Regions from separate parts of the Homo sapiens genome. Here region 1 is linked to region 2. Evidence: fine-mapped expression QTL. Tissue or cell type: whole blood. Region 2 holds a variant in brackets; the other region holds the start of a gene. All regions are shown on one strand. Distances are from middle to middle.

Region 1 (2,615 bases), 240 kb after region 2:
CAGGCGTGGTGGCGGGCACCTGTAGTCCCAGCTACTCGGGAGACTGAGGCAGGAGAATGGCGTGAACCCGGGAGGCGGAGGTTGCAGTGAGCCGAGATGGTGCCACCGCACTCCGGCCTGGGCGACAGAGCGAGACTCCGTCTCAAAAAAAAAGAATACACTGAGTCGGTTAAATACTAGCACGAGCTGATAAGCACTGCTAGAAACCTAAGCTCTGATTTCAGCAAATGCATAGAAACACTTTTCAAAGAAGCAGTATACCTAGGCCGGCGCGGTGGCTCACGCCTGTAATACCAGCACTTTGGTAGGCCGAAGCGGGCGGATCACTTGAGGTCAGGAGTTCAAGACCAGCCTGGCCAACATGGCGAAACCCCGTCTCTACTAAAAATACAAAACAGCCGGGCGTCGTGACGGGCGCCTGTAATTCCACCTAGTCGGGAGGCTGAGGCAGGAGAATCGCTTGAACCCGGGAAGTGGAGGTTGCAGTGAGCCAAGATCGCACCGCTGCACTCCAGCCTGGGTGACAGAGTGAGACTCTATCTCAGTTAAAAACAATAATAATAATAATAATAATAATAATTAAAAAGTTTTAAAAAAGAAAAGCAGTATACCAAAGTCATTCCTTTACCCATACATACATTTACTCTTACTTGGACTCAGGAGTAACAAGGAACTCACCTCCTTTAGAAAACGAAGAAAATGAAATACTGAGTTAAGAAGGGGTTAAGGAGAAAGTATTTGTATTTATTGAGAACCAACTACTTTATCCACTTCAGTAAGCTCAACAACATACTCAGAAACGGGATTCACCTCTGAATTAGCAAAACCGACGATCCTAAAAAGCAATTTGGAGGAGTGGCAATGAAGAGGGACGACCTGACGTTCGCTCCCGCCAGTACCAAACCACTCGGGCCCACCGCCTTCCCCTTCCTCAGAGACCTAAACACACTGAGGCCGCGTTCCGGTAGCCGGTGGCATCTCCTGTCAGACGCCGGCCACTCCGCGCTCCTGTCACCTCCGGTGGAGGCGACCCCATCCCGAGGGCACTGCCGCGGGGGCTCGGCTCCGACTGCGGGAGACCCAGGGATGGGGTGGGGAGCCGAGCCTTCTAAATAAAGCTGTTACAGCTGCGGGTCCTGGGGCAGCCCGAAGGCCAGAAGGGGCGACCCTGGGACAGAGGCCGCGACATCCCTCGGGATCCCCACTGAGGCAACCGGGACAGCATTCGACGACTCGGCTCGCGAGACCCTCGGCGTGACGCCGGGTAGGACCGGGTCGACTGGCAATGGGGGAGGCCCTCCACCGCGACTGGACTGGATACCCGGCGGGGGTCCTGGAGAAAGGAAGGGCCGGCCGGCGGGCGCCCCACAGCCGGAAGGGGCGAGCCCGCAAATAGGGCTCACCTTCAGGTCGTTCTCTGGCAGGTACTTGCACAGCCGCGCTATTTCCACATACTTGTCCAGGTCTAGCGGCGCCATTTTAAGAATAACAAGCCGCGGCAACAGCGGCGGCGGCGGCTGTAGCAGCGGCGGCGGCAGCGGCGGAGGCCGAAGCCGGAACTTTCCCTGCGTCACGTCCGGCCCGTGAGTGGCGCCTGCGCAGCGCCGTTAAAGCGCGACCCGTTTCTCCCCGCTACGTCGGTACGCCCGGCGCCCCCTCTGGCTGAACCCCGACTGCAGGCCCCAAGAGAGCCCGCTTCGGTCCACCCCGCGAAACCTGCTGGGACCCGTAGTCGTCTGCCGCGGGGGTGCTGGGATGTGTAGTTTTCTGTTGTGGACAGCCACCCCTCTCTTTTCCTCCCGTTCCTCCAGACTTTCACCTCCCGGCAGCCGGCGAGGCTTTTCCGAGGCAAAACAGCGGAGTAGGTGGTCCTAGCCACTCACTGGTTTGTTTTTCCAACCCTTTTAAGCACTCTCCAGAATATCTTCACTTAACAATTGGGTAAGCCTGGCCGTAGTAACCGTTTGCACCTTTCCAAGTCCCTGTGAAAACCTCGCCTAAGCCTGTGGCAGAGATGTCAGGCCCCAGTCTTCCAGCCTGAAAGGAAGGGAAACGAATATTATTAAAGCATTTCTGATGCTAAATGCGATACAAATGATATTTTTCCTTTTAATCTTCGTAACGATTGATAGGAAAGTGAGGCTAGGAAACTGCAGTTCACCCCAAATCTCACAGGGAACAAAATGGTGGGGTCAAGATTGAAAAATGGCTTAAGCTTAAGCATGCTTCCAGTGAGAATCCCACGAGGGCAGGGAGTTTTTTGCTGTAACTCCAGCACCGAGAACAGTACCTGGTACTAGCATACCTTCAGCGTTCGTTTATCCAACCACTCTTTGCTGAGCAACAAAGATGTGCCAGGTACAGCTCAAGGCGCTTGCAGTACTTCGTGAACAAAATAGACAAAGATCTCTATTCTATCTGTAGCTACAAAAAGTACCAAAATTAGCCTGGCGCGGTAGTGCGTGCTTGTGGTCCCAGCTACTCTGGAGGCTGAGGCAGGAGAACCGCTTGAGTTGGGAGGCGGAGGTTGCAGTGAGCTGAGATCGCGGCACTGCACTCCAGCTTGGGCGACAGAGCGAGATCCTCCTCAAAAATAAATTAGTAAAAGGAGCTGC
Region 2 (2,763 bases):
AAGAAAATATGCAAATAAATCTCATAATACTCATACATTCCAAGTAATATTACCACCTCAAGTCCTCAATCAAGATGTAGCTTTCAGATGCAATTCAATCCAATTTCTGAAATTATGACAGTATTGAAAGAAATTAAATGATTTCAAAAAACTGGCTTGATCATGTTTCAAAGGATCAAACATTTTTCTACCAGCTAAGTTGGAATGAGAAAAAATATATTATGGAGGGACTCTGTTCTTGATTTTCAGTAGTCCATGGTGGCTAGCTTCATCATTATGAACCATTACATATTTCCAAATCCAGACATTTAACTTAGGTCCAAGTATAAGAGTTGGATTTACCTCATTATACAAAAATAAATGATTTACTCTTCTCAGGGTGAGAATAGTGACTATTTGAGTGTAGGATTAGAAGTTGGAGGTAAATATCCATCCCTCAAAATCAAAAAATAAAAATTCCAAGGTTAAGATTTTAAAAGACCTGAAAGGTTGCATTTTAAAACAGTTACCCTAAAAGTGTGAACATTTTTTTGTTTGTTTTTAAAATGGTGGCCCTAAATTAAAAAATAAAAACTAAGTAACACCACTATGTGTCTTATCACGTTAGAAAACTGCACCATTTAAAATTTGTGGAAAATGAAAACTTGTTTCGACAACAGGGTTTTTGTTTTAATAGTCATCAATGGTATTCTCAAAGAACACGTTTCGAACATCCAGAATGGATGCTAATTCCAAAATGTGCTTCTGGAGATGAGGATTCTCCACTGTTTCATCCCTTGGCAGTTGTGGATATGATTCTGGATAATTTCGTGTTTCCTGGTAGGCAAAGAAGAGAAAAGTCAAGTTTTGTAGTCTAATGAAAGAAAATTATACACATTGATAACAGTGTCAAGGAGTAATATGTATTTTCACTTTTATACTGGAATGATTCTTATTAATATATTTGTTGAATATTGAATTGCTGATATTTAACCATTTTGACCTCTAAAAATGACAGTTTCAGATGAATCAATGTAATATATTCATTTAGTGAGTTATTCCACAAATGTTTACTGAGGCCTATTGTTGCTAGACACTATGCTCTGTATCACGTGGAAACCATATAATTCATGCTACTGGGGGGAAAATCCTAACACATATAGAATTTCAACAAGTATATGTTAAATAAATAAAAAGATATTGCTTTGGAAATTAAAATGAGGCTGGGGCAGCCGGGCACCATGGCTCACGCCTGTAATCCCAGCACTTTGGGAGGCCGAAGCGGGCAGATCATGAGGTCAGGAGTTTGAGACCAGCCTGGCCAACATGCTGAAACCCCATCTCTACTAAAATACAAAAATTAGCCGGGCATGGTGGTGGGCACCTGTAATCTCAGCTATTCAGGAGGCTGAGGCAGGAGAACTGCTTGAACCCGGGAGGCGGAGGTTGCAGTGAGTTGAGATCACGCCATTGCACTCCA[G/A]CCCAGGTGTTTCACCATGTTGGCCAGCCTGGTCTCGAACTCCTGAACTCAGGTGATCTGCCCGCCTCAGCCTCCCAAAGTGTTGGGATTACAGGCGTGAGCCACCGTGCCCGGCCTAGAAATTCTTCTTCATTTGGTAAGTTCTATAAACTATAATCCTGCCATACATTTAAAATTTCCTGAAGAAGTTGCTACTTTTCTGTACATTTCATGCAACAGTTCATACATACAAATGTTAACTTCTCTCTACCTATAGGACTCACTCACACATTACAAAAATAAATTTTTTTTTTTGAGATAAAATCTCACTGTGTTGCCCAGGCTGGCTTACTGCAGCCTTGCAATGAGCTCAAGCAATCCTCCCACCTCAGTCTCCCAAGAAGCTGGCACCACAGGTGTGCACAACCATGCGCAGCTAATTTTGGTATTTTTTGTAGAGACAGGGTCTTGCCATGTTGGTCTTGAACTCCTGAGCTCAACCAATCTACACGCCTCGGGCCTCCCCAAGTGCTGGGATTACAGGCGTGAGCCACTGCACCCAGCCCTAATTAGAGGTTTAAATACTACTGTTTCAGAAATTGAAAAAGCAGACAGAAAATCAACAAAAATACAGAAGATACAAAGAACACTCTTCAATTTAGTTTAATATCAAATGGAACAAACTGACATTTTTATATCATTCCATCTAGTAATAGCAGAATACACTGAATTCTTTTCAAGTGCAGATAAAACCACTGCCAAGATAATTCACATGCTTGGGTTAAAAAACAAACTGAATAAATTTTAAAACTGAAACTATACAGTTAAAGCAATGCTTAAAAGGTAAGTACTTCTATGCTCAATAGTTACACAATCCTCCCACTGAAACATCACAGCAATCTCATGAGGTAGCTTCTGTTATCATTTTACAGATAAGTAAACTAAGGCTAAGAAAGGTGAGATCACTCTTCAATGTCACACAGCTAGTGAGAGGCACCTTGTATTTTTTTAGTAACGGTTTTATTAAGATACAATTAACATACCATACAATTCACCCATTTAAAGTATACAATTCAGTGGCATTTAATATATCCAGAAAGTTGTTTAACTATCACCACAACCAATTTTAGAGCATTTCGTCACCCCCAAAAGAAGCTCTTTATTCTCTAGCAGATCCCTCCCCCATTCGCCCCAGTCCCCTCCCTCAGCCCTGGATAACCACGCATGTGCTTCTGGTATCAAAAAATTTGCTTATTCTGGACATTCCATATAAATAAGTCATATAATATGTGGTCAAAAATAAAAGGTGGCCGGGTGTGGTGGCT

Evidence for each region. PIP is the estimated chance that this variant, and not a neighbour inherited with it, causes the effect.
Region 1: PPP6C starts here. The variant in region 2 is fine-mapped to the expression of PPP6C in whole blood (INTERVAL, PIP 0.95).

The regions. Positions count from the first base shown.
Region 1 is chr9:125,188,241-125,190,855 of GRCh38, forward strand. It overlaps PPP6C (protein phosphatase 6 catalytic subunit), which reads right to left and starts at 1,563. Exons shown (of 7, transcript NM_002721.5): 1 at 1,404-1,563. The coding sequence starts at 1,478. RefSeq lists enhancers at 885-1,671, 1,672-2,458, 1,761-1,840.
Region 2 is chr9:124,952,138-124,954,900 of GRCh38, forward strand. It overlaps SCAI (suppressor of cancer cell invasion), which reads right to left. Exons shown (of 18, transcript NM_001144877.3): 18 at 1-816. The coding sequence ends at 670. Among named protein-coding and RNA genes, the nearest start is that of GOLGA1, 12 kb to the left of the region's middle. The variant G/A (reference allele first, on the strand shown) is at 1,460.